Linked DNA regions of Homo sapiens: region 1 is linked to region 2. Evidence: fine-mapped expression QTL. A gene starts in region 2. The other region holds a variant in brackets. All regions are shown on one strand. Distances are from middle to middle. Region 1 has its middle 36 kb from the start of LINC01907. Region 2 holds the start of CAB39 (calcium binding protein 39).

Region 1 (9,038 bases), 47 kb after region 2:
CCTGGGGCAGGTCAAAGAGAAATTGAAATTGGACAGAAAAAGGAGCTTTTTGGAGGGATGAGGGGGCATCATGAGTAAAGACAGCCTCTGCTCCATGTGCATTCTCTGGCATGGTGGAGATTAGTAGGCCTCAGTCAGGCTGAGAAAAACCTAAAATTAGCCTGACCAGCTGGGCCTGGGCTGTGTGGGACTCTCCCTCACCCCCCTTGCCTTCTCAGGTTTCAGAAAGCCCGAGTATGTGCAGGAACAGCATGCTTTGCCCAGGTCGTGGCAGGCAGATCAGGGCACCTGGGGCCGGGCCGGGCAGAGGGTGCAGCTCCCAGCAGGGATGTTGTCTTTTATACGGGTTCCCCAATTCTGCAGGCCTGGCAAGAGGGAAGGGGGAGACTGCCCTTCCCATCTTCTTCTTGATGCCACTTCCTCTTTGGCTTGTTCCTTCCCCTTCCAGATCTGCAAAGCCTGGCAGTGTGGCACTGCCCAGGCCAGCAAACCAGAGACACAGCACGGCAAGCCCCACCAGGGGAAAGAGGCTTGGATGGGCAACTTCCTGGACACTGGGGAGGAGCAACCAGAAAGCCTCATCCTCACCCACTTTACCCTGTTCCACCTTCCTTTCTGATCTAGCCTGAAATTCCCTCCGTTAGTCACCATCAGCAAAACCGCAGAGCATGTGCTATGATCAAGACTTAGAAGTTGTGTGAGAAGCTAATCTCACCTCCAAAGGTGCTGGAGCTGGTCTGAGTGGGTGAGGAGCAGCGGTGCATGGCACCACGTGCATGGTGGTGGGGAAGGTGGGAAAGAGATGGCCAGCCTGGTGGTGCTGGCGGTGGTGGGGGCTGGGCAGCAGGGTGGCCTTTCCCACTTAGTGTCCGTCCCATCCCTACATCAGATATTCATGACTTGTTTCTTCTCCCTAGATGGCACTGTCTGGTACTCTCTGCCTTCTCATCTTCCTCTAGTCTGGGGTCCCTCCTTCTGGGTCACCAACTCCAAGACAGTTTGCAAATGCCAGTCCCCCTATCTGAAACAGTGCTGGAAGTTTCTGGAGCCAGAAGCATTGCTGAGCATGGGTAGTAGGGGCCCAGGAAGGCTTCCAAAGAGATGGGGCTGATGCAGGGCCCCAGAACAAGTTGCCCAGCCTGAGCTCATGGCCACAGTTGCTGTTATTTGCAGTTTTTGGAGTCTTACAATTTGCCCTGCCATGCTAGGCAATGGGTGACCACTGGCCACTCGCAGGCTAGACACCCTCAGATGGGGCCCAGGATTTTAAAATTTGTCAAATTAGATGCCCATTCAAAAACTGGGAGATTTCACGTGAAGTCAGAGTTTCTGACTTCTCTTGAAACATAAGAAGATAGGGCCCCATTTGAGGTGACTAACCAAGCTGGCTTCCTGGGACTCACCCAGTTTAGGCACAGAAAGTACCTTGTCCCAGGAAACCCTGGACAGGCTCCCAGAGCCCTGCAGGGCAACAGTAAACTGGAGTGGACTTGCTCACCCTCTAGGGCTCGTCAGCCCTGTTAGGGGCTAAATTGCACCCTCTTCAAATATGCATGTTGAAGTTCTAACTGCCAGTATCTCAGAATGTGACCTTATTTGGAAAGAGGGTCATTGCAGATGTAATGAGTTAAGATGAGGTCATACTGGAGTAGGGTGGGCCCCTGATCTGACTTCTGTCCTCGAAAAAGGGGAAATGGGAACACAGACACACACAGGGAAGATACCACATGCTGAAGGCAGAGACTGGGTGACGTGTCTCCAAGCCAAGGAATGCCAAAAACGGCCAGCAACCCCCAGAAACTCAGGGAGAGGCCTGGAATGGATCCTTCCCAGTGCTTTTGGAGGGAGCATGGTGCTGCTAACACCTCGATTTCAGGCTTCTGGCTTCCAGACCTGTGAGTCGACACAGTTCCATTGTTCTAAGCCACCCAGTTTGTGTGTACTTCATTACGGCGCCCTAGAAAACCAGTACACGCTCCTACCATGCCCTGCAGTTTTGTCATACATTCACCAGGCCTGCCTGGCCCCAGAGGCATTAGCCTTCTCACTTGCAGAAAATCCCCTGATGAGTTAAGCCAGATGTTGATGAGATCACTCCAGGGGTCCTGAGAGGGAAGGAGAAAGGTGGGTCTGGAGAGCATATGCCCCAGCCCTCAGGGGAGAGAGTGCTGGTGTCCCCAAGCAGCAAGTTCTCCAGTACTCACAGTATCCAGGAGGTGACCAGAGACCTGGGGGTGGGAGACAGGTGGGGCACCTGGGCTGGTACCAGGTGGCCAGCCTTGGCAGAGATCTCCCAAACTGTCGGGGACATTAGGAAACCACACCAGTGAGCTTGGGCAGCAAAGAAGCTGGGGCGACTTTGATGTACAAAAGATTAGGAGCCCTTCTGTGTGTTCAAGGCATCAGAGCCTCCTGGGTTCCGGTGGGTGAAAGGGGAGGTCCCAGTGGAGATGGAAAAGGAAATCTAGGTCAACCTTTCCAAATGACGTTGGCCTTGGAATGCGGTTGATTCAAGGGCAATAAAGAAAGTGTGTTAGGGCTGGGCGTGGTTGCTCACACCTGTAATTCCAGCACTTTGGGAGGCCGAGGTGGGTGGATCACTTGAGGTCAGGAGTTCGAGACCAGCCTGGCCAACATGGTGAAACCCCGTCTCTACCCAAAATGCAAAAATTAGCTGGGCGTAGTGGCGTGTGTCTGTAATCTTAGCTACTGGGCAGGCTGAGGCGGGGGAATTGCTTGAACCCGGGAGTCGGAGGTTGCAGATAGTGCCAAGATAGTGCCACTGCACTCCAGCCTGGGCAACAGAGTGAGACTCCATCTCAAAAAAAAAAAAAGTGTGTTATTTAATCCCCATTATACAAGTAAGGAAACTGAAGCTCGGAGCAGGTAAGGCTCCCAAGCTCACAGTGCTGGAAAGTAGCAGAGCCAAATCTCCCCCAGCCTTGGGTCACTGGAGCGGCTAGTTTCAACAAGGTCACACTGCCGCCGCCCCCACTGCAGTGGGCCGCCATGGGTCTTCTCGGTCAGCACTCACTGCCCGCTGGCTCTGCAAACCTCATTCTCAACCTGCGTTTGAACTGGAAGCTTTCGCTCTGATTCTCTCCCTGTTTCCAGGGTGGGTTTTTTTTTTTTTTTTTTTTTTTGAGATGGAGTCTCATTCTGTCACCCAGGCTGGAGTGCAGTGGTGCAATCTTGGCTCACTGCAACCTCTGCCTCCAGGGTTCAAGCAATTCTCCTTCCTCAGCCTCCCAAGTAGCTGGGATTACAGGCACCCGCTACCATGCAGGCAAATTTTTTTTTGTATTTTTAGTAGAGATGGGGTTTCACCATGTTGGCCAGGCTGGTTTTGAACTCCTGACTTCACGTGATCAGCCCACCTCGGCCTCCCAAAGTGCTAGGATTACAGGCATGAGCCACCGTGCCCGGCCTCCAGGGTGGTTTTAAGAAGGCAAGTCCGTGGGATCTGCCAAGTCATCTCATGCAGAGCGTTCAGGAAGATCATGGTCCCCCTGCCAGTTCCTGCGGTGTTCTTGAGGTCAAATAATATTCTTGTGGTTCGCTCATTCATTCATTCACTCACTCACTCAGCAAGCACTGAGGGAGTACATGAGGGACTGTGGATATGGCAGTGAACTATAGACCTGGTCCCTCCCTCCAGGAGCTTGTAGCACTTTTGTCTGGTGGCAACACGTGGTGTGGAGAAAAGAAAGCTGCTCAGCATGTTAGGGTATGCAGCAGGGTGGAGAGCTGTTGTCATTAACACAGGGAGGTCAGAGGAAGGCTCTGGTAGATGCTAGTGAAAGTCTGAAGGGTAAGGGAGTCAGCCCAGGGCTCCAGGGGGAAGGGCCTCCGAGGCAGAAGGTACCAGAAATGAAAAGGCCCTGAGTCAGGAGCACACTTCCCTGTGGCTGAAGTGATCCTGGGAGTCCACAGGAATCCATGGGAACCTGTGAGCCATCATGGAGATTTGGGAAACACGAGAGGGCTGGTCTGGCTGTGTGATGAGGGTGGTTGGGGCGGCTGGACGTGCAGGAAGGAGAGAGATGTCATGATCTACGTGAGTCGGGACAAAGGATGGACCAGGGTGGTGGCTGTGGAGGCGGGAGGAGCAGTCAGACTCTGGATGTATGTCTAAGGAGGATGAGGGCTTGGATATGGGGAGGAAGAAGGGGAGCCCTAGGTTTTTGGCATTCATCTTCTGGCAGTCTTTCCTTAACTTTCCACCACTAGGGCCAGCCTCTGAGTTCATCCTCACCAGGTTGCTGCGACAGGGAGGGCAGGCTCTGTGTCCTCATGTTTGCCTTTTGCTTTAATCCTCACTCATCTTTACTTGCTTTAGCCCATGGGCTCTGGAATGAGGGGCCCTTGGAGCCCCCCACTTCTGATCCTGAGGTGGGGGGCAGGCAGTAGAAGCTGGAAGGAGAGCCTTCCTTAGCACACAGCCCCACACCCCACTTCCCATCCTTTCTTTTGAAGAGTGGAGGGGGATCCTCTGAAAAGCAGCGATGAGGAGTGCTCCCCCATCCCCACCCCCTCTGCACTGTGCTCCAGCCAAGGCCTGAGAAAGCAGCGCAATGTCAGGGAGACCCAAGGGGTGGTGTGGCAGAGGGTGAGAGAAATGAGACAGCACCTCAGCCTGTGAAAGTGGAGGCTGCGTGGATGCCGGTGCACATAAGTGAGTGGGGAGGGGGAGGGAGAAAATCTTCCCACCACTAGACTGCCCATACCATGCAGACTCAGAGACCTGCAGCCCAGGCTCTGCCCCTC[T/A]CAGCTCTGGGCTCTCCTCCCAGTCCTGGGGGTGGCCCTGGGCCAGGGCTGTGATGCACCGCCCACCCTCACTGCACTTGAGCTCAGCTGAGAGCATATGCTGGGCACCTACCCAGTATCTAGTTTCCCCTTCTTCCTTACTAACAGCATCCTGCCTTTGGGGGGTGGCAAGGTGTCCAGCTCAACTACTTCCTTGGATCCTTTGTATGTAGTGGTGGTCATGTTGACCTAGTTCTGCCCAGTGGAATAAGAGCAGGAGTCAGTGGGTGGAAATTTACTTTTTTTTTTGTTTTATTTTTTGAGCTGGAGTTTCACTCTTGTTGCCCAGGCTGGAGTGCAATGGCGCGATCTCAGCTTACTGCAATCTCTGCCTCGTGGATTCAAGTGATTCTCCTGCCTCAGCCTCCCGAGTAGCTGGGATTACAGGCCCCCGCCACCACACCCAGCTAATTTTTTCTCTTTTTAGTAGAGATGGGGTTTTACCACGTTGGTCAGGTTGGTCTCAAACTCCTGACATCAGATGATCCACCCACCTCGGTCTCCCAAAGTCCTGGGATTATAGGCATGAGCCACCATGCCTGACTGGTGGGTGGATATTTAAAAAGAAACAGATTCAACTGGCATGCTCTTTAGCCCTTTCTCTTTGATCTTTGACTTCATCGTTTTCTCCTTCTAACTTTTTGGAAGACAGTTTGGACGCCTGGAGGTGCAGCAGCCATATTCAACCATGAGGGGAAAAGCCAGATGCTAAGTGTGGTGGAGGAGAACAGGAGGAGTCCTGATGTTGGCTGACCCCTAAGCGATGGTACCAGCCCTTGACTGCCAACTCTAAACTTCCTTTTTTGTATGAGACAAAAAAAAAAAAAAAAAAAAAAAAAAAAAAAAAAAATCCCTGTTACTCTAGTTTTTAGTTACATGCAGGTGAACACAGTCCTAATTGATACCCAGGTCATCTCATGCAAAATCTGGTAGCTACTTCTGAAAGCCCAGCACCCACCCCAGCTAGCCTAGGGCAGCCCAGCCCATGGGTGGCTGACCTTGGGCCATGCCTCTACCCTGACCCCACTGCACAGAGGTGATGGCCCGCAGGAGTACAGTGTGTGGGGCACAGGCTCAGAGAGGTTGAGTAACTTGCCCGGCATGGCTCTGCTAATAAAGAGCAGAGTCAAATGTCAGTGTCAGATCTTGTGTCTCAGAGGCACTGTCTCTGCTCTGATATCAGCGTGGGTGGAAGTGGGCAGGGAAATGGGAGTTCAAAGCCCAACAATTCTGATACGATTCCCTAGGAAGAACCATAATAGACCATAGAGCATCTCCTTGAAGGCTTTGCCAAATGTTGCCTCGATGAGGCCTGCTCTGACTACCCTGTTCAAAATGCTGGCCCTCGCTCCAGATTCCCCTTACTCTACTCTGTTATTTATTTATTTATTTGTATAGAACGTACCATCTTTTAGCACACTATATAACTTACTTTTTAGTATGTCTGACATATGATGTCTCTTGCCCCTCCCTCTACCCCCAAAATGTAAACCCCACAGGGACAAAGAATTGGGCTGCTTTGCTCATAAGCAAAGGGCCTAGAATAACGCTGGCAGAAAGAAGGTATTTGTTGTACTGAATTAAATAGTAATGTTTGCTGAGCACCAACTATTAGGGGCTCAGGAAACATTGCTATTTAGTTCAGTGCAACAAACACCTCCTTTCTGCCACCATTATTTGGTGACATTAGGGACATTAGGGTGTCCCCTAAAATTCTTATGTTGAAATCCTAGCCCCAGTACCTCACAATGTGACTGTATTTGGAGATAGGTCTTAAAGAGATAATTAAGTTAAAATGAGGTCATTAGGATGGACCCTGATTCAATATGACTGATGTCCTTATAAAAAGAGGAGATTGGCTGGGCGCGGTGGCTCATGCCTGTAATCCCAGCACTTTGAGAGGTTAAGGTGGGCAGATCACGAAGCCAGGAGATCGAGACCATCCGGGCCAACATGGTGAAACCCCGCCTCTACTAAAAATACAAAAATTAGCTGGGCGTGGTGGCACACACCTGTAGGCCCAGCTACTCGGGAGGTTGAGACAGGAGAATCGCTTGAACCCAGGAGGCGGAGGTTGCAGTGAGCCGAGATCACACCACCGTACTCCAGCCCAGGTGACAGAGTGAGACTCCATTTCAAAAGAAAAAAAAAAAAAAAAAAAGAGGAGATTAGGACACAAACGCAGGGCCGACCATGTGAAGACAGAGGGAGAAGATAGCAGTCTACAAGCCAAGGAAAGAGCTCTTAGAAGTCAACCCTGTCAACACCTGGATCTCAGACTTCCAGCCTCCAGAATCATGAGGAAGTATACTTCTGTTGCTTAAGGCACCCGGTCTGTGGATCTAGGTAATGGCAGCCCTATCAAACTAATACCACACCTATGTCTAGCTCGGTTCAAAGGATTTTGCATGGGTTGCTCATTTGAGCCTAACCACAACCCTGGTACCATACTCATTTCTCAGATGCAGGAGCTGAGTGCCAGGAAGTGGTGATAAGGGGGCTGGGGAAAGGAAGAAAGTCTAAATCTTGGGGTTCTGGACCTTGTGAGGTTAGGGAAAGGAGCTTTGGTTGCCCGATCTGCCAGGCCCTTCTACATCTGAGCTCTGTGGGGAATCAGGCCTATGGGGAACTGGGGTGCTCAAACCACACCCCTAAGCCGGCCCATGCTATAGCCCTCCATGCCCCCAGTACAGCAGTGCCCCTGTGTCTCTATTTGGAACCCTGGGATCTGAGTCGCTGCCTGGCACTACCCAAAGGGACTCATCTCTATGGTGCAGTTCCAGATACTGAGGCCAACAGGGGTGAGGAAGAGAAGTAAGACAGCCCTAGGCAGGACACATTTCCCCCGTGTGCCTCAAAGGATTTAATCATCATGCACTGACTCTCACGCCTGCCTGGAGAGTCAGATTCTCTAATATGAGATTGTGTGGAGCCCACTGGTTCTTCAACTACCATTCTCAGTCAAGTTGATAGTATGGCTAATATTTATTGAGGTCCTACTATGTGCCAGGCCCTGTCCTAAGTGCATTCCATAGAGTTTCTCATTTAATTTTCTTGGCATCCCTGTGAGATGGTCTTCAATGTTATCACTATTTTACAGATGAGGAAACCGAGGCTTAGAGAGTTCAAGTGTGGAGTTGGGATCCTGTCTGACTCCTATGCTGGCTGTCTATTTCTTTTTTTTTTTTTTTTTTGAGATGGAGTCTCATTCTGTTGCCCAGGCTGGAGTACAGTGGTGCAATCTCGGCTCACTGCAATGCCTGATATGCTGGCTGTCTTAACCATTAACTGGCACTGACTGTATACCTTGCCCTGTGCTGCCTTTGGCTATAGTTGGCTGGACATGTTCCCCAATCCCCTTGTGCTGGGCAGAGAATCAGGAAGGAAGCTGGGGTGTAAGAACGGAAACTGCCAACCAGTACCACAAAGATCTGAACTCTTATTCACGTGGTCTGTAACCTCCTGCCCGCTCTCCCTCCCCCACCCGTGGTCTCTGCCTGGGAGCTGAGATTGTCCCCTTCTGTTTAACTTGGTGTTTGACCCCGGCCACCTGCTGTTCATTTCATTCAGTTTCACCGGGACACCCAGACCAGGGCACGGGAGGTGGCCCTGTTACCAGTTCTTTGTCATCTGTAGCTGGTTGTGAAATGCCCTGGCTGATCCACACCAGAAGAAGGAGAGAAAATTTCCCTGGGGCTGGAATTGCTGGGGCCCTTCCTAGAGGAACAAGCACAGCCCAGAGACAAATCTGAAGCCACTGCCTGTACACGTGGGTTGGGAACTGCCTGTCCAGGACACCTCCTGCAGAAGACTGGCCCAAGGCCTTGTCCTTTCCTTGGCAGGGACAGTGCGGGGACGAGAGAGTCCCAGGGGGGTCATGTGAGCTCTGTTTCCGGAGTCTATCTGGGAACCTTTTCCTTCCCTGCTGGTCCACATTCCCGGAGCTCTGCGAGTCAGCATCGAGGTGAAGGTGGGCCAGCGCAGGCCCTTCCCTGTGGCCTCTGAGTCTGGGGGGGTTGCCATCCTCTGGGTCTGATGTACCCTCCTTATGTGCAGGGTGGGGGGTGCAGAAGTAGAGTAAGTGGGCCAGGCGCGGTGGCTCACGCCTGTAATCCCAGCACTTTGGGAGGCCGAGGAGGGTGGATCACGAGGTCACAAGATCGAGACCAGTCTGACCAACATGGTGAAACCCTGTCTCTGCTAAAAATACAAAAAAATTAGCTGGGCACAGT
Region 2 (9,038 bases):
GAGGTTGGATTTGTGTATTTTCATGGCAGATGGCTAAACTGTGAGTGATTAGTCATCAATCTGGAAAAAAGGCTCTTGGGAAAGTATGGCAATAACTAAAGAAATCTGTAATCCCACAAAAGTTGATCAAAACAGAAAACTTTAGTAAATATTCCAAGGTAATAAAGACCCTGTGTGGCATACGTATTTGCAATATACAAACATTCAAATAAAATCAAGTTACCAAACCCCATACTTATACTGGACTTTCTTAGCAGTTCTTCTACATTAACTTTAGGAAACGTATACAGCCTTACTCAGCATCTTACTTCATACGTGATGAAACAGAAACAGAGATCTTATTAATACACCTTAGAATGTAAAATACATGGGAAAAAACTGACTTAGTACAAGAACCTGAAGTAGAAAATGCTAATGAAGGGAAGTAAGCTGCCTTGAAATAAAAAAACAGATATCCAGGCAAGCGTGGTGGCTCACGCCTGTAATCCCTGCACTTTGGGAGGACAAGGCGAGATTACTTGAGCCCAGCAGTTCAAGACCAGCCTGGGAAACATGGCAAGACCCTGTCTCTATAAAAATACAAAAATTAGCCGGATGTGATGGTACGAGCCTGTGGTCCCGTCTACAGGAGGCTGAGGTGAGAGGATGGCTTGAGCCCAGGAGGTTGAGGTTGCAGTGAGCCATGTTCGCACCACTGCACTCCGGCCTGAGCGACCGAGTGAGAACCTGTCTCAAAAAACAAAACAAAACCAAAAAGGCAAATACCACCCATTTGTTATAGTAGCAAACCATTTCATGAAATATTCTATGCTTATATCCAGCCTGAGTCTTCGTGATGTCATGTTCAAAAAATAGTTAACCTATATGGATGGCCCTAGTGTAGAGACTATTTTTCAGGAGCGAAGTGGGGAGTGGGAAGGGACACTGCATCGCCGTCTGTGGGGGATGGTATACCAGCCATGACAGTAATCTTTTGACAACATCCCTTTAAAAGTCCATTCACTCCTATAGCAGAGATCTGTGTGCTTTCTTCCTCTTCCACACCTCATGACAACACACATCCTGCCAAGAAAAACTTTATTCAACAAGCAAGAGGATCCAAGTCTTACAGAGAAAGAAACATACTTCAAACAAGAAACTTTCAGAAAAAGTTCTGTCCACACTAGTAGTTATTAAGCCTAACTACTGCATTTCATCTGAGGTAAATAATACAACCTTGTCAGGAAAACATAACATGCTTAGAAGACTTCCATTGTTGAGTAAAAATTTTTTATATGAAGATATTTAATGACAAGAAAAGCTTAATAAGAGATGTGTGTGTGTATACATATGCATACAATATATTTCATTATGCAAAGAAAAAATACACAGAAAAAGACTGGAAAGAAAATACGCAAAAATGTTAGCAGTAACCAAATCTAAGTGGTAAGATTATAGAAAATGTTTTAAAGATTTTCTAGCACTCCCTGAATTTTGGAAGCTTTGACAAAGATCATGTATTATTTTGAAAAGCAGAAAATTTTTAAACTGCAAAAAGGTGGCATTCACTTGTCATACACGCAAACAAGTGCAAGCTTACAAAACTTAGGCCCTAAGCTGCTTTCACAGATCGTATATTCTAGATTTCGAATACAGCTGCTAATTACTTCCTAACAATTTGAACAAACTACAAAATAAAGCTAAACACTTTCACTTCTGGCTCTACTATAAAGATTTCATAATAAAATAAAATATAAAAACAAAGTTTTACCTTTCTGTAAAAGGTCTACGTCTGGCTTTCTACAGCAGAATATTACTAACCATTTTTTAAAAATCATCAATTTATGTTATTTTACACAAATGCCACCTCAAAGAATGTAGGTTTAGCTTAGTAATTCCAAAGTACATACGCCTAATACAAAGTGCAAGAAGTTTTTATGCACTGTAGCGAACGCACAAATAGAAACACCTTCTGTGTGCAGATGAGCTTATTTTATAGACACCTTTCCATTACCTCTTAAGAGCCTGATATCTAATGAAGCTTTCTGCAAAGGTACTTTGCTTAGCCTGGGCATGGATTTACTTGATTATCTGGGAAGCTGTCAAAATCGATCTGAAACTGCATTACATTCAAGGCACAGAATGTCAACTCCTGACTGGGCCTCCTCCTCTCTCCTTTCACAAGAGCGCCTTTAATATCCCCTAGCCTACATTTCCGGGCTCATGAGTCACTGAGAAATGAGCTCTAAGTTTCTCTTAGAATGCTGCTCAAATAGCTCCTCTACAGCATTCAAGGATCTGGCCCCAAAATACCTCTTTAGCCCAATACCCCCCGCCCCCTGCACCATGCCAACAAACGGAATTATCCATGATTTCTAGGCTTTGTCTTCTCGCTTTTGCTACCCCTTCCACACACCTCTTCTGCAATCCTCCTCTCCTAAATCCCATCAGGCCTTCAAGACTCTGCTCAGCATCCCCCGCCCAGGAAGCCTTCCAGGTTTCTGCGAGGCAGAAGTGATCGGTTCGGTTTTTCCGGGTGCCGTTCTAGCACTCCGTCGTTCTTTCACAGGACTTATCACCTCCTTCCCGGTATCGCAGTTATTTGTGTTCTCGTCTTATCTCTCACACCAGAGCCTAAGCTCCTCGGGGGAGGGGACCGGGGCCCGCTTCACCTTTGAATCCCTCCGGTGCGGGCCGACTACGGCGCCTGCACGCAGTCTGCGCTTGGGGTGGTTCCATTGAACTCCAGAACGCTCCGACCGCCCAATTCCTAACCAGAAATCAGTTAGGCATTTTCCTGAATTGGTCACAAAGCTGGTATCTGCCTCCCGACAACAGGAAGTTTACCAGGGGCGGGAGCGAGGCGCTGAAGCCCGGGTGCAGCCGGTGACAGTTGACCCGGCCCGCACTTCCCCGCCCGCCCGACTCCGGCCCGGACCACCACGCGCCGCCAGCCCCGCCAGAGAACCACGGGGGGAGAGGCAGGAGCGCCTGGACTGCAGGCCCCCGGGCGCCCCACGCCGGCGAAGGCAAAGGGAGCGTCTCAGCGAGGGACCGGAGCCGAGCCGGGCGGAGAGGGCAGGCTGGGCCCGGCTGCTCCCGGGGGCTCCGGGGACAAGCTGGGCCGGGGCCGCCGCCACCCAGGAAAATGGAGGCAGCCCCGGGGCCGGTGAGGGCCCAGCGGGGCAGGCGGAAGCCGGGCAGGCGTCCGCACCACGAGCAGGGCCGGCCGGGGGTCACTCACGGGGCTGGGCCGGGCGTTCCCTTCTCTGCCTCCGCGTCGTCGCTGTCCCCGTCCTCGGCCGCCGCCGCTTCGGGCTGCTCGTTCGGTCCCCGCGGAGTGGCTCGGACGCTCGGCCCCTCCGTTGTCTTCCGCCCGCTCCTGCTCCCGGCGACGGGCTCCCGCGGCGGCGGCGGCTGCGCGGGCGGACGGCTGCCCAGGGGCTCCCGCGGCTGCCGCCGCGCTGCTGCGCTCGCTTGGGCTGCGGCTGCTGCTGTGGGGCCCGGCGCCGCCTTAGTCTTCGCCTGTGCCCCCGCCCCGGCGCCTGAAGGCTCTGTGTCTCCCAGGCCGCGCCGCTCCCCGAACCCCTCGCCCCGCTTGCGGCCCGAGCCCGGCTTTGACGTGCGCACTGCGCAGCCGCCGAGGACGCGACGTCGGGCGGTGCCGCAACGCCCCCTTCCGCCTCGGGCGCCCCCGAGCGGCCGGCGGACTCAGGGCGCCGCAAGTAGGCGCGAGGCCCGAGCGGGAGGGGCCGCAGAGAAAAGCAGAAGCCAAGCCCCGCAGTTCCTCTTCCTCCGCCGCAGCTTCCAAGGCGGGGCTCAGCCCTTTCTCCTCCGCCTGAGCGCTCTTACTGCGGGAATCGCACGCCCACTTTCAACGACCACTTCCTCAACTCTTCAAGCTTAATTCTGCGAGAGGCCGGGATCCCACTTTGTGCAGACCGATTCTTACTTTCTTGGAGCAGATCGCTTCATTTTAGCATCCAGGGGGACACAGCATCCAGGGGGACAAGTGCCAGAACGTTCCAGATTAATGGGAATATTCCTATTTAAATCAGCAACCTGGATTTAAGTCCTGCTCCACCATTTGCTATCTATGGGCTGTTTCACGTCCCTGTGCCTGGATTTCCTCACACATTAAAAAAAAAAGTGTGTAATAATATAGTGGTACCAGCCACGGGCTTCTGAGGATGAACGGGACAGTGCATTGCAAAGCTCTGACAACGGAGCCTGGCACATACAAATGCCATATGTGTGTATTTTTGTTTCTTTGTTTTTAATGTGTAACTGAACTACTTTTTAAGCGCCTCCTGTACGTCAGGGATGGGGCAGTGAGCGAAACAGTCCATGCTCCTAGCACAAACAGTTGACAAATAATTGACTAATAAACCTACAGGTATGTATAATACTGGACAATTGGGCCAGGCGCGGTGGCTCACGCCTGTAATCCCAGCACTTTGGGAGGCCGAGGTGGGCGGATCACGAGGTCAGGAGTTCAAGACCAGCCTGGCCAACACCGTGAAACCCCATCTCTACTAAAAATACAAAAAACAATTAGCCGGGCGTGGTGGCGGGCGTCTGTATTCCCAGGTACTTAGGAGGCTGAGGCAGGAGAATCGCTTGAACCCGGGAGGCGGAGGTTACAGTGAGCCGAGATCGCGCCACTGCACTCCAGCCTGGGCGACGCAGCGAGACTATCTCCAAAAAACAAAAACAAAACAAACAAAAAACAACAACAAAAAAACAAATACTGGACAGTTAAAAACACCACTGGGTGAGGAGGGGAGAGAAAGCAGGGTGTTGTTATTTACAGTGTTCATTCAGGGAGCAGCTTCCTGGAGAGAGAGAGCCTGGGAGCTTTCTGTATGGAAAGGCAGAGGGAATAGCAGGACCAAGGCCCTGAGGCGAGAATCTGCTGGCTTGAAAGCGGCCCCAGATAGGGGAAGAGATGAGGAAGAAGTGCGGCCCTACCAACCAAAGTTAGGACTTCCTGTTTTTACTCTCAAGGAGATGGGAAGCAATTTGAAGGGTTGCGAGCAGAGAAAGGACGTGGAATGACATTTCAGGAGGATCCCTGTGGCTGTGGTATGAGGACCAGACTGAAAGCCCTGAGGGTTTCAGCAGGGGGACCAGCGAGAAGCCTGTTGAAATCAGCCAGCCAAAAGATAAGACTGTCCGGCCGGGCGTGGTGGCTCGCACCTGTAACCCCAGCACTTTGGAAGGCCGAAGCAGGGGGATCACCTGAGGTCAGGAGTTCGAGACCAGTCTGACCAGTATGTTGAAACCCCGTCTCTACTACAAATACAAAAATAACCCCAGCTACTTGGGAGGCTGAGGCTGGAGAATTGCTTGAACCCGGGAGGCGGAGGTTGCAGTGAGCCGAAATCGCGCCACTGCACTCCAGCCTGGGCGATAGAGGGAGACTCCATCTCAAAAAAAAAAAAAAAAAAAAAAAAAGATAAGGCTCTGTCCAGGGTGGTGGCAGTAGAAGAGTAAAATGATCACCTGTAGACACGTTTAAAAGGTGGCTCACGCCTGGAATCCCAACACTTTGGGAGTCCAAGGTGGGAGGATCATTTGAGGTCAGTTCGAGATCACCATGCCCAACATGGTGAAACCCTGTCTCTACTAAAAACACAAAAATTAGCTGGGCATGGTGGCGGGCACCTGTAATCCCAGCTATTCGGGAGGCTGAGACAGGAGAATCGCTTGAACCCGGGAGGCAAAGGTTGCAGTAAGGGGAGATTGCAATGAGCCAAGATTGTGCCACTGCACTCCAGCCTGGGCAATAGAGCAGTACTCAGTCTCAATAATAATAATAATAATAAAAGGTGGCTCACGCTTGTAATCCCACCACTTTGGGAGGCAGAGGAGGAAGGATCACTTGAGGCCAGGAGTTGGAGACCAGTCTGGGCAACATAGTGAGACTCCTGTCTCTAGAAAAAAAAATTAGCCAGGCGTGGTAGCATGTGCCTGTAGTCCCAGCTACTCCAGAGGCTGAGGTGGGAGGATCACTTAAGCCTGGAGAGTCGGGGCTACGGTGAGCTGTGACTGTGCCACTGTCACTCCAGCCTGGGCCACAGAGTGAGACCCTGACTCAAGAAAAAAAATAAATAAATAAAGGGTAAAGCTAAAAGGATTTTCCTGATTTCTAATTTTTTTTTTTCTCAAGCAACTGGAAAATACAATTTGGTGATATGGGGAAAATTTAAGCAGAAACAGATGTGAAGGGAGGAACTTGGAAATTTACTTAGGGACATACAAAGTTTGAGCTGCCTGTTGGACACCCAAGTTGGAAGTTGGACTTAAGAGTTCAGAGGAGAAGTCCTGGCGCGGTGGCTCACGCCTGTAATCCTAGCACTTTGGGAGGCTGAGGCAGGCGGATCACCTGTGGTCAGGAGTTGGAGACCAGCCTGACTAACATGGTGAAACCCCGTCTCTAATAAAAATACAAAAATTAGCCGGGTGTGGTGGCGTGCGCCAGTGGTCCGAGCTACTCTGGAGACTGAGGCAGGAGAATTGCTTGAACCTGGGAGGCAGAGGTTGCATTGAGCTGAGATTGCGCCACTGCACTCCAGTCTGGGTGACAGAGCGAGACTCGGCTCAAAAAAAAAAAAAAAAAAAAAAAAAGAAGACTTCAGAGGAGAAGTCTGGGCCACAGACAGAATTTAGGTGGTTCTCAGAGTAGGTAAAACCTCTGAATTCAGTGAGATCCTTTAGGATGTGAGTGTTACTACTAAGCCCAGTCCCCCAACAATGACAGGTCAGGGAATGGTAAGGAACCAGCAAAGAACCCTGAGAGGGAGGAGCCAGTTTGGTAGGAAGAGATCCAGGAAAATCTGGCCAGGTGAGGGGGCTCATGCCTATAATCCTGGCACCTTGAGAGGCAGAGGCAGGTGGATCACTTGAGGCCAGGAGGTCGAAACTAGTCTGGCCAACATGGTGAAACCCCATCTCTACCAAAAATACAAAAATTAGCAGGGCGTGGTGTTGCATGGCTGTAATCCCAGCTATTCCGGAGAGTGAGGCAGGAGAATTGCTTGAACCCAGGAGATGGAGGTTTCAGTGAGCTGAGATCACACCACTGCCGTCCAGCCTGGGTGACAGAGGGAGACTATGTTAAAAAAAAAAAAAAGAAAGAGAAGGAAAGAAGATCTCAGGTGATCCACTCAGGTGATCTCTACTAAATACAAAAAATTAGCCAGGCGTGGTGGCACATGCCTATAATCCCAGCTACTTGGGAGGCTGAGGCAGGAGAATCGCTTGAACCTGGGAGTTGGAAGTTGCAGTGAGCCGAGATTGTGCCGTTGCACTCCAGCCTGGGCAACAAGAGTGAGACTCTGTCTCAAAAAAAAAAAAAAAAAAAAAAAAAAGCCGAGCACGGTAGCTCACGCCTGTAATCCCAGCACTTTGAGAAGCCAAGGCGGGTGGATCACCTGAGGTCGGGAGTTCAAGACCATCCTGACCAACATGGAGAAACCCCATCTCTACTAAAAATACAAAATTAGCCGGGCATGGTGGCATGTGCCTGTAATCCCAGCTACTTGGGAGGCTGAGGCAGGAGAATCACTTGAACCCAGGAGGCGGAGGTTGCCGTGAGCCGAGATCGCGGCATTGCACTCCAGCCTGGGCAACAAGAGCAAAACTCCGTCTCAAAAGCAGGAGAGGAGGAGAAGGAAGGGGCGGGGAGGGGAGTCCCTAGAAAGAATGGGGGCCCTGGAAAGAAACCATTGGTTTAGACAACATTTTCATGAAGTTTTGTTTCTAATGAGGAGCAGAGAAATGGGGTGATGGCTGGAGGGGAATGTGGGGTCCGAGCAAATGTTTCGTTTTATTTCATTTTGTTTTGTTTTTAGATTGGGAGCTCTTCCAATGTGCTTAAATGCTGGTGGGAATGATTCAGTCGTAAGGGAAAATGTGATGATGAGGGTTGGGGGGTGTTTTCTGGAGAGCTGTCCCTGATTGAGTGAGAAGGGAAAGACGCAGAGTGCACTGGAAGGTCTGGCCTTGAATAGGAGCAAGGCAGGTGAGGTCACGGTTCCAAGAGGGCAGGCAGAATGTGGGCACGAGGCAGAGATCCAGGTAGACGAGGTTCCTGGAACTTGTGGACAGTCCCTTCTGAGGGCTTCGATTTCCTCAGGGAAACAGGAAGAACAGTCATTCATTCGCTCAGTGCAGAGAGGGAGGAGGTGTTGGAAGTTCCAGGGGAGAGGAGCAGGTGTAAAGGACCAGTTGGCAGGCTTATTCCATGTTTTTTAGCAGCCACATTTTGCTGGGAAGGTGGGGAATCTATTCCACCAGGGTTGTTTTTGCTAGATAATTCCATGGAGGGAAACAGGGGAAAGGAAGGTGAAGGTACAATAAGGAAGTAATAATTATGGTGGACTGTTAAATCCACACCTGTCCAGGAGGGAATGAGGAAGGGTTGTGGGCAGTGGGGGGAGAGAGGCCCATGTAGAAGTGGCAGGATCAACGGATGGTTGGAATCAGCACGGTAAGGGAGTGAGCTGGAAGGAAGAACATGCTGGTTGGAGAGCCAGGTCGCTTGCTCCCGAGATTATGGAAGGAGTGGTTTTCAGGAATGATAAGGCCTAGGGCAACTTCTCGAACTATGTGAATTTATAATGTGCATTTCCAGGGGCTCTTGAAGAAATGTAGATAATGGTTTTAGTGGTCTGGAGTGGACCCCTGATTCTGCATTTCTAACAAGCTGAGATGGGAAGGGGTGGAGGAAGATACTGATTTTTTGTTTGTTTGTTTGTTTGTTTGTTTGAAACGGAGTCTCTCTGTGTCACCCAGGCTGGAGTGCAGTGGTGCAGTCTCGGCTCACTACAACCTCTGCCTGTCGGGTTCAAGCAATTGTCCTCCCTGAGCCTCCCAAGTAGCTGGAATTACAGGCGCCTGCCACCACGCCAGGCTAATCTTTGTATTTTTAGTAGAGATGGGGCTTCACCATGTTGGCCAGGCTGATCTCGAACTCCTGACTTCAGGTGATCCACCCACCTCGGTCTCCCAAAGTGCTGGGATTACAGGCGTGAGCCACTGCATCCTGCCAGATA

The links.
Region 1: its variant is fine-mapped to the expression of CAB39 in skeletal muscle (FUSION, PIP 0.95).

The regions. Positions count from the first base shown.
Region 1 is chr2:230,660,026-230,669,063 of GRCh38, reverse strand. No RefSeq gene overlaps it. Among named protein-coding and RNA genes, the nearest start is that of LINC01907, 36 kb to the left of the region's middle. RefSeq lists enhancers at 297-516, 897-976, 997-1,046, 1,087-1,566, 1,536-1,830 and 5 more. The variant T/A (reference allele first, on the strand shown) is at 4,768.
Region 2 is chr2:230,707,416-230,716,453 of GRCh38, reverse strand. It overlaps CAB39 (calcium binding protein 39), which reads right to left and starts at 3,612. Exons shown (of 9, transcript NM_016289.4): 1 at 3,224-3,612. LOC124907996 (formin-like protein 16) reads left to right here and starts at 3,128. Exons shown (of 4, transcript XM_047446832.1): 1 at 3,128-4,375. The coding sequence starts at 3,128. The coding sequence ends at 3,886. RefSeq lists a silencer at 2,901-3,840.